Linked DNA regions of Homo sapiens: region 2 is linked to region 1. The links come from fine-mapping of genetic effects on plasma protein levels. A gene starts in region 1. The other region holds a variant in brackets. All regions are shown on one strand. Distances are between the middles of the regions. Region 1 holds the start of CRIM1 (cysteine rich transmembrane BMP regulator 1). Region 2 overlaps CRIM1 (cysteine rich transmembrane BMP regulator 1).

The links. PIP is the chance, under the fine-mapping model, that this variant and not a neighbour inherited with it causes the effect. The UK Biobank Pharma Proteomics Project read protein levels with antibody pairs (Olink). The fine-mapping took linkage between variants from a reference panel, not from the people measured, so its PIPs are less certain.
Region 2: its variant is fine-mapped to the plasma level of the CRIM1 protein (UK Biobank, PIP above 0.99). The variant lies in the coding sequence of CRIM1. If it changes the protein, the assay may bind it differently, which can mimic a change of level.

What each region holds. Positions count from the first base shown.
Region 1 is chr2:36,351,047-36,356,425 of GRCh38, forward strand. CRIM1 (cysteine rich transmembrane BMP regulator 1) reads left to right here and starts at 4,732. Exons shown (of 17, transcript NM_016441.3): 1 at 4,732-5,379. The coding sequence starts at 5,247. CRIM1-DT (CRIM1 divergent transcript) reads right to left here and starts at 4,524. Exons shown (of 2, transcript NR_037631.1): 1 at 4,042-4,524; 2 at 3,703-3,935.
Region 2 is chr2:36,474,289-36,479,667 of GRCh38, forward strand. CRIM1 (cysteine rich transmembrane BMP regulator 1) reads left to right here. Exons shown (of 17, transcript NM_016441.3): 6 at 2,601-2,783; 7 at 5,209-5,379. Among named protein-coding and RNA genes, the nearest start is that of FEZ2, 120 kb to the right of the region's middle. RefSeq lists a silencer at 2,138-2,432. The variant G/A (reference allele first, on the strand shown) is at 2,658.

The DNA.
Region 1 (5,379 bases):
TCAGCTATTACTATTATCATTACCAATTACTGCTCTTTAAAATAAGTCAGAGACCAAAATGAGTCTGAGAAAATATCACAGAGGCTAAAACCCCAAGATGAGACAGACTGTCAAAACAAGGCCAACAGAAGATCCTAAGAAAGAAAAAAAAAAAAGCAAATATCTGATCCAGCAGATGTTGCACAGCAATGGATGCTAAGATAACAGAGAGCAGGGATTCCAGCTCAAGCATAAAACTTGAGGAGACACTCAATTAGAAGGACTCTAAAAATAACAATAGAAAAGGAGAGCAATCATTTTATCCACACGATACCCTGTATGGTTGGTATTCTTGTCTCTGTTTTACAGAGAAGACAGATTCAGAAAGGATAAATACCTTGTTTAAACTTGTACACAGAGAGAGAGAGAGAGAGAGAGAGAGAGAGTGTGTGTGTGTGTGTGTGTGTGTCAGGATCCTAGGCCAAACATCAAAGAGAACCTGTGTTCTGTGCAGATGTCTTGTAAACCTTGTGGTAGTTCTGCAGCAGCTATCATTCACAGGCAGAGTAAATAAGAACCCACTTAGCAAAAATAAGGTATTACGTGGTGATAATAGAGTTCAATTTCAGATTAAGAGTCCAACATCCAGATGGTTGAGCCTCCAAACTAGGGTCTGTCTATATCACTGCAGTGCCAAGCCTAGATTAAGTGAGAACCCATATATAGGTGATCCCAGCTGAGGAGACCAGAGAGATGGCCTAAGAGGGTAAAACGGGCCAGACCTGCTACCCTGGTTTATTCGTACCACTTTCTAATATGTATGCAACGTTTTCATAACACAATGAGGTTTCTTCTCTTGTGCAACTCAATTCCAAGAGTATGTGAGTCAAACTCAAAGGCAACTTCTACATTCTTCTTTTCATTTCAGGAAGAGAAAATACAAAGTGCAACTCAATTCCAAGAGTATGTGAGCCAAACTCAAAGGCAACTTCTACATTTTTCTTTTCATTTCAGGAAGAGAAAATACAGAGTGTGACTATAGGTGGACTAGACACTGTATCGGAAAGGCGGGGTCTAATACTAACATTCTGTCTATTGCCCTCTCATTTCCACTTTCTGCTTAGGCCAACAAATGGGCACTTTGATTTTCGACATTTTCAACAATTTATTAATCCCCAGGATGGCCAATAGAGGGCAGACGATCTCTTCTTCTAGACCTCCATCAGAAATACTTCGTAATTCCTGGTTCGTTGCAGACCTGTTCCCCAACCCCTCCCCCACCCCCCCACCACCCCCACCCCAAACTTCGATGACTCCCTCCTGCCCATACCATCCCTTTCAAGTACTGATTTTGAGGTATTTACTAAAACCAAGAGAGAAGGGCTGCAGACAATAATATTCAAATATCATTTTGACTGTAATTCTTCACTCTCCCTTTTTCAACTCATTCATGCATGCATTTTTATAAATCCTGCCCTCTCCAATAAGCTGACAAGCTAATTGGGTTCAGAGTTATTTAAATAACTATAATGTAACATGATAAATGCTACAAGCAGAGGTACTTACAAATGCTGTAGAACAGATAAAGAAGCTCAAGAAGGCTTCTCAGAAAGGGAGGCCTTTCATGTGTGGCTCTAATTCTTAACATTCGTTCATGACTTTCAGGGTCCATTCAATTTCAGGGTAATTCTTCCTAGTCCACTTTCACCCGTGACACCTGATTGTCATCATGTTGGGCTCACCCAAACTCTTTCTGTAACCATAGTCTGGTCTTTGAAGATAAGAAAATACTTTTGTATTCGAGCCTCAGTATCATTGCCTCAGCTTCTCACTACCTCATTATCATCCCTCCTGGATCCCAGAGAAGAAAGAGCTGTTTCATAACTGAGCTCCTGATTCACACACTGGTTTCAGAAAAGCTGCCAGGACCTTGCAGGTTTCTCATTCGCCACTAGTCACTGGCTTCAAGGAATCCTATTTTCTCTATTGCTTCTATGACTATTAATTTTATGCCAAAGGGCATGTGTAATGTAACTTGATTTTTTTTTTCTTTTTGAGCTGATACAATCATCTTCATCTTAAAGAATCTCCCTAGTCCTTTCTAAACCTGACTTGAATTCCTGTGAGAAGTCAACCTTTCTCATGTTGTATCTGTCCATCTACCTTCCAGGTGGTTCTACTTCTGAAGTCCCAGGAACAATGAATAGTCATCTCCAAATTATCCTTTGCCTGTGCTCATCTGTAGCTTTCCTTAATCCTTAATATATCCCCTTAAAAATAAATAGAAGCTAAACTTTGACAATGCTTATTACCTCCTTCTTTCCTAACCACAGTAGCTTTCTCACTTCTGCCTTTTTCTCATCACCTGACCTTGGCTTTTCCTGCAGGTCCTACAATGTTATCTGCTACATTTTAATGTCTTTATACTTGCATTTGAACAGAAATACAGATAACCTCCTCTGCAAGAGTGGGAGGGACCTTTTAACACAGAGCAATGATGACAGTTTGTTGGCAAATCCCACACTGAAGTGCTGGTGCCTTGTTCGGTGACAAGAAAGAACAATGTTTAACAATGTGTGTTTTATTTTTCTTCAGTTTTTTTGTTTGTTTGTTTTTGAGACAGAGTCTTGCTCTGTCGCCCAGGCTGGAGTGCAATGACGCAATCTCGGCTCACTGCAACCTTCACCTCCTGGGTTCAAGTGATTCTCCTGCCTCAGCCTCCTGAGTAGCTGGGATTACAGGCATGCGCTACCACACCCGGCTAATTTTTGTATTTTTGATAGAGACAGGGTTTCACCATGTTTCACCATGTTGGCCAGGCTGGTCTCGAATTCCTTACCTCAAGTGATCTGCCCACCTTGGCCTCCCAAAGTGCTGGGATTATAGGCATGAGCCACCACGCCCAGTCTCTTCGGTTTTTCTAATAGAAAACCTAGCATATTTTAAACGATTTTGCCACTTAACACTTATTATGGACCCACAGGGTATGAGGGCCTTTGGAGATCATCTAATCGGACTTCCCACCCAACTACAGGAATCATTTCATTGCAACAACTCTTTAAACCCGTCTAGAAAATGCAATGCTCTCTCCCCTTTTCCACGGTTGAACATCTTCCTCATGGCCCTATAATAATCAATGATAATTAATGAGCCTCTTCCTCTCCTTGGACAAAGAAATATGATAGGAGAAATGTTTAGTTTGCTGATGCCCATCATGGGGGAATAGTCCACTGGTAACTCTGGCTTTTGGGTTCAGGATTAGACAGAGTGGTTAAACTAAAATATTTATCGTAAGTATGAATTTGTTCCACAAACATAACATTTCAAAGGTAGCTTTGTTTCCTCTTTCCTTGCACTGCCAGCTATTAACTTTCGGTTCATTAGTCACGATTTTCAGAATCCACTTGGCTGCCACCTTCCTGCAGCCAGACCATCTTGGATCAGAGGGTGGGCCAGCCATTCCCACGTCACACCTGCCACGGGATCGATTTTTTCCCCCATTGACCACAGTCACTTTTTGTCAATTAATTAATGTTATTCACCTGGTACCCATCTTGTGAATGGTAGGTCACTACGGAGCGGATTACTACTTCATATCCCATCAATGACAGAGCCATCATTACGAAAACCTTTTCTGACAACCACTGAAGAGAAACCATCTCCACACCGTGCATTTTGCATCACTTCCGTTGCTTCTTTACCTGATTTATCACAAAGACTATGTACCACACATCTTCTTTATTAATGCATTGACAATCAGTGAAGACAATGAAAACCCACCACTTTTGTCCGTGAACTGAGAAAGAAAATGGCAATGTCATATGGCATTAATGATGCATGAGATCTATGGGTGTAGTGTCACGTCTAGGCGTGTAGTAATCCAGTCTTCGGCCTTACTCCAGGGAGAAAGATTCAGCTTTGTTACTTTCCAGTCACTCTCTCCCGTAACACAGCACCTTGGCACAGAAAGCAGAGCGACAAAACCCAGAATGAGGACAGTTAAAATTCAACTCAAGCTACAGCCATCCCAACGGTCCTCCCCAGCTCCCGCGGAATATTTACCAAGACCGTTTAAAGCACTTAATTAATTCACTTCAGCTTCGCTGGAGAGGTCTCAGGGTTCCCGAGACTCCATTACATAATATCTTTCACAAAGTCTATTCCCAGCTCGAATGGAAGATGGATTCTCATCCAGTGTGCGGAGGTTCCATGCCTTTGCTTCCCTTTCCCGGAGTTCGATCCGGCGATACCCTCCCGAGGCTGCAGCCATCGCCCCGGCCCCGAGCTTCTGGGGTACCCGCCACTCTTCGAACTCCAATCTGGCCCCGAAGGTGCAGCCGCCTCGCCCTCCTGGCTCCCAGGCCGGCCGCTGCGGCCACGGTGCCAGCGAGCGCCCGGGACACCGCGACTCTCGCTGCTCGCTGGGTGCGCCCCAAGCCCATCCGCAGCGCACCCGCGGCGCCGGGGCCAGAGCCGCAGCTCGGTGGCACGGCCGGCTCGGTGCGCCGGGCTCGGGGAGGAGGAGATCGGGAAGAGGTGGAGGCGTGTGAGGGAGGGAGGAAGGGCCCGGCCGCCCGAGAGGGGGAGGGGGAGGCGGAGGGGGCCGGCCGGGCCGGGGAGGGGGGGCAGCCAATGAGCGGCGCGCGGCGCGTGGGGGTGGGGGGAAGGTCTGGGGGAGGAGGTAGGATGGGGGAGGGCGCAGCCCGAGCGGCTGAGGCTCCAGCCATAAACAAGCGCCCGGAGGAGCGGCGCAGGAGTGAGGCGAGCGGGGCGCGCGGAGCGGACGCCGCGGATCTTGTGCTGCGCCACCGCGCCCACTCGGCAGCTCGGGAGGCGGGGACCGGCCCGGAGGCTGCGCCGCTGCGGGGCCGGCCGACTCGGAGGAGGAGAGGGAGGAGGCGCCGCCGGCCCGGGCTGGAGCCGAGCGCAGCAGCCACCGCCGCCGCCGCGCCAGAAGTTTGGGTTGAACCGGAGCTGCCGGGAGGAAACTTTTTTCTTTTTTCCCCCTCCCTCCCGGGAGGAGGAGGAGGAGGAGGAGGGGAAGCTGCCGCCGGCGCCAAGGCTCGTGGGCTCGGGGTCGGCGCGGCCCGCAGAAGGGGCGGGGGCCTCGCCCCGCGAGGGGAGGCGCGCCCCGGGGGCCCCGAGAGGGGCGGTGAGGACCGCGGGCTGCTGGTGCGGCGGCGGCGGCGCGTGTGCCCCGCGCAGGGGAGGGCGCCCGCCCCGCTCCCGGCCCGGCTGCGAGGAGGAGGCGGCGGCGGCGCAGGAGGATGTACTTGGTGGCGGGGGACAGGGGGTTGGCCGGCTGCGGGCACCTCCTGGTCTCGCTGCTGGGGCTGCTGCTGCTGCTGGCGCGCTCCGGCACCCGGGCGCTGGTCTGCCTGCCCTGTGACGAGTCCAAGT
Region 2 (5,379 bases), 120 kb after region 1:
TTTTGATGGTGTCCTTTTAAGTCCCAAAATTGATGAAGTCCAGTTTATCTGTTTTGTTCCTTTGTTGCTTATGCTTTGAATGTCACATCTAAGAAACCACTCCCTAATCAAAGGCCACAAAGATTAACTCTTATGCTTCCTTCTAAGAGCACTGTAGGTGTAGCTGTTGTATTTAGATCATAACTCTATGATTCATTTTGAGTTAATTTTTGTATATGGTGTGAGGCATAGGGTTTTCTTCTTTATTCTTTTGCATGTAGATAATGCAAAAGACTTTCAACCTCAGGCCTGGCATGGTGGCTCACACCTGTCATCCTAGCACTTTGGGAGGCCAAGGTGGTTGGATCACTTGAGGTCAGAGGAGTTCAAGACCAGCCTGGCCAACATGGTCTTTACTAAAAATACAAAAATTAGCTGGGCATGGTGTCATGCACCTGTAGTCCCAGATACTTGGGAGGCTGAGGCAGGAGAATCACTTGAACCCAGGAGGTAAAGGTTGCAGTGAGCTCAGATGACGCCACTCCACTCCAGCCTGGGTGACAGAGTGAGACTCTATATCAAAAAAAAAAAAAAAAAAAGACTTTGAACCCCACTGAGTCTTGGCCATCTTGTCAAAATACCTGTAAATGTGATAGTTTATTCCTGAACTCTCAATTCCATTGAACTATATATCTATCCCTGTGGCAGTACCACATAGTCTTGATTACTATAGCATTGTATTATGTTTTGAAATTAGGAAGTAGGAGTTCTCTAACTTTGTTCTCCCTTTTAAGATTGTTTTGGCAATTCTGGGTCCCTTGCATTTTCATATGAATTTTATGATCAGCTTATCAATTTCTACAAAAGAGCCAGCTAGGAGTTTGATAGAGATTGCATTGAACATGTAGATCAATTTGGGGAATATTTCCATTTAAACAATGTTGTCTTTCAATCCATGAACACGGGATGTCCCGTTTACTTAGGCCTTTTTAGTTTTTTGAAAATGTTTTGTTATTTTCAAAATACAAGTTTGTACTTATGTTATTACATTTATTCCTAAGTATTGTATACTTTTTGATGCTATTGTGATTGGAATTGTTTTCTTCATTTTCTGATTGTTCATTGCTAGGGTATACAAACACAATTTGGGGAGTTGCAATTGTACTCTGCAACCTTGTTGAACTTGTTTATACATTCTGATAGTTTTTTAGTGGATCCCTTAAAACTGTTTACATACAAGATCATGTCATCTGCAATTAGAGATAGTTTTACTTCTTCCTTTCCAATCTGGATGCTTTTAATTTATTTATTTTTCCTAATTGCTCTGGCTAGAATTTTCATTACTATGTCGAATTGAAGTGGTGAGAACACACCTCATTGTCTTGTTCCTGATCTTAGGGGGAAAGCACTTGGACTTTTGCCATTAAGTATGAGGTTAGCTGTAGGACTTTTGAGGATGCCATTTATCAAGTTGAGGAAGTTCCGTTCTATTCCTAGTTGGTTGAGCATTTTTATCATGAAAGAATATTAGATTCTGTCAGATGCCAAAAACTGTGTCTATCGAATGATCATGTTGCTTTTTTTCCTTATTGTGTGACATATCGTATTAACATTAATATTTTGGATGTTAAACCAACCTTGCATTCTTGGAATAAGTCTCACTTGGTCATGGTGTATAATTTTGTTTATATGTTGCTGGATGTGGTCTGCTAGTAATTTTTTTTAAGATTTTTGTGTCTACATTTATAATATACTGATCTGTAGTTGTGTTTTCTTGTCTTGGTGGGAGTTATTTTAAATCAACTAAAATTAAAGAATGAATGTAGGGAGAGTGTTTCAAGGCAGAGAAAAATTTAAAAATCATTGATATCGTGATGAGACTTCTAAATATGGGACTATGAGTCCTCAGCAGAACATAACCCTGAAGCACAATGGAAGGAGCACAAGGTTTCAGTTGAAGAGCTACTGTTTTGGCTTCTGTCGTTTGCTGTGTGACTTTGAGTAAACTACCTAGGATTTCCTCACTTTTAAACTCAGGATAATAATACCTATGTCAGACCTTCATTATAGGGATTAAGTGAGGTGATACATATAGAGAGTATTTTGTTAAAGGCCAAACACTATTAAAATTATACGTGTTTATACCATGTACAGAGAAAAAGAATTTAAGAGAGAGCACTGGGGGAACAGAACATCACCACTTCAAAAAAGACCATAATAAAATTTTTGAAGCAGAACAAAACCTAATGTGGAGGCAGGATCATTCATTTGAGGTAGACAATGATTTAACCAAACAAATAGAATCACTTTAAAGCACATACCAGATATGTGAGTGTCATGGTCATAAAGTTTAGCTTTGTCTGGGATGGAAGGAAGTCAGTGTAGATTTTCCTAGGGGGAATTTCTGTTCCTTGGTGTAAACTGGATAACAGTGTGTTTTATTTTATTTTGTTTTGCTTCACTTTATTGTTTTCTGTTACATGAACTTACATTGAGTTGAGTAAATTTCCATCAACTTATAACCTCCTATTAGAAATTTTCTAGAGGCTGTTTGAAAAACATCAAAGGACACAACTAAAAAATGACTACAAATATGCCTTGTTTGTTTTAACTCTTTTCAGATACAAAGCCAGCCTGCGTATTTAACAATGTGGAATATTATGATGGAGACATGTTTC[G/A]AATGGACAACTGTCGGTTCTGTCGATGCCAAGGGGGCGTTGCCATCTGCTTCACCGCCCAGTGTGGTGAGATAAACTGCGAGAGGTACTACGTGCCCGAAGGAGAGTGCTGCCCAGTGTGTGAAGGTAAGAAAAGGTGCTAATTACAGATTAACAGGAGCATACATGGTATAGAGTTCTAAAATCAAAATCGTCCTAATTCAGTCTCATCCAAAAGTAAAGGAATATTGAAGTTCCTTTTTTAGCCTTTTTTAAGACACCATGGTCTGTCTTTTAGCATGTTAAAGCCAGGTAGAGTGTGTGGAAACACTTCCCTAAGGGAAGCTATGCCTGGGTGTAGACAATGGGTCACCTCTTTCCACAGGCAACGTGAGATGTCCCAGAGTTGTTTTCCGTTCCTCCCCTGCAGTTCTAGCAATTCCTCAGCAAGTCCTAGGGCAAAGCTTTATCTTCACCCTGGCATTAGAGCTCACCACCTCCTCACCTCAGATTGCTCAGTTAGGATAATGTGGGCCTCACCCTGACAGTCTCAGCCTGCCGGCCCAGAGAGGAACTAACTCTGCCACTGTCGTAATACCCAGGACCCTCCAGGGAGATCAGGGACCTGCTACTGCTTCTCTGAAAATATGTGGTGGTTCACATGGGGTCGTGGTATCAGGTCACCACCTGGTGACACCAACTCAAGGCCCAGCCAGGTGTCAGGTGTGACTCTCAGGAATCTGCTTTGTCTGGATTCCCCTTTTCTCTCCAAGAAGTAATATGTTCATGTTCCTTCAACAGGCTGCATCTTCCCATCACTGATGTTCATAAACAATAAGCATTTCAAAACAGTTGCTCTGAATATCACTCCCTGCAACCCACACATTTTACAGATTAGGATGTTGAAGTTCAGAAGAGAAAAGTCACTTGCCTGTAAAGTCACTTTACACTGCAGCCAGTAACAATAACCCCGTGCCTGACTGTGTCTATAGTGTTCTTCTGACAACACAACACTGTTTCCCCAGAAAGGAAGGTCTTGTGAGCCTTCCTGTCCTAACCAGGCCCCAGATCTTCAATCTGAAGTCGCATGTGTTAATCTTATGCCTGATCTCTGCACACAAAGTGGGAGGGCACAGTGTCATGCCACTTTCCATACTTCCTCATTTTCATAAAATTTTCTCCTTTTGATATTTGAGCAATATTTACAACATAATATTGAAGATCTGAAAATGTTTAAAGTATAAAAATTGCATTCCTAACATAGTTCATAACAGTGAGTTCTTTTCCCTACTAGAGGTTATTTTACCCAACATAGGAGAAAAGTAGTTTATTTTTTAGGTGATGTTGACAATTAAAAAGAATTACTTCAAATTTTTAACCTTTCTAATTGTTTTGTTCCCTACCTGCCCCCAGTCTGCAATAGTTCTGAAACTGTGCAGCAGTTGATGCTGTAAAAATGTAGATACGAACCTCTGTGTAGTCATCATACTGAGTTGTCTGGGCATGGATCCAGTTATGTCTCACTTCCTGGAATTCAGATCCAGGCTCAACGTAGAAAAATATGTATTCTAATACTTTTTACACAGGAATTTAAAAAATCTTCTCTTGCTCAGGTCCATTGGCCGCCTCCCTCTCTGGCAGACTGCCTTCCTAACGCTGTGATGGCATTATTTTAAATGCTGACCTTCTAACTGACTTTATTATAATGTCCCACTATGTCCTTAGAATAATGATGACCAAACTCTATGAACTGTCTGGATTCCTCTCTCAGCACAGCAGTAGTTGTTTGTTGAAGCCAGTTTTTTATGTATTTCTGAGAAAGAAAATTGAGTAATTTATCTGGTTGCTCTCAATAGAGGGATAAGAGAGGGTTTCATATGCAGTATTTATATACTTGTCAGTAACCTCAGAAACTTTTTTTTTTTTACAGTAGCTTTGGCTACTTCTGTCTCCCACCTGGGGCTGCAGCTTAGCTTCCCAACTTATGGGAGAAAAAATGGCCTAAGTTCACAGCGCTCCTCCAAGGCACAGTGACCCATGGTATGTCTAGACTAGCCTTGTCATGAACAAGTCCACAGCAAGACCACTGTTGCCCACATGGTCGTGCAGGTACATGAGATAGAGTTTTAGAAGTAACAATATCACTCTGACTTAGGGCATTGTTGCTTCCGCTTTACAGTTAGGGAAGTTGAGGTTTGATAAACATTTATGTCTACAACTGCGAAGACATTGTCAGAGCCTAAAATGGAGTCATGTTTTCTAATTACCAACCCACAGCTCTTGCCACAAAGCTTTCCAACTTTACAGAGTGATAACACCTGCACATTGGTTTTTAGACTACAGATCCTCTTCTCTGGGACTGCTGTGTCAGGATGAGTAGACATAAATTCAGTGTGACAGCTTCTTTTGCATGCACCCCCAGAGACTCCTCATGCAACCCTGCGCTTCTGTTGATCACAGTGGGAATAGAACTGCTGATGACTAGAACCCAGGGAAAAAATGTCTCTGGGTACTGACAGAGATAAGATTTAGAAGATGCTCAGTCTAACTCTGAACTCATGTTCTCATTTAGATCCAGTGTATCCTTTTAATAATCCCGCTGGCTGCTATGCCAATGGCCTGATCCTTGCCCACGGAGACCGGTGGCGGGAAGACGACTGCACATTCTGCCAGTGCGTCAACGGTGAACGCCACTGCGTTGCGACCGTCTGCGGACAGACCTGCACAAACCCTGTGAAAGTGC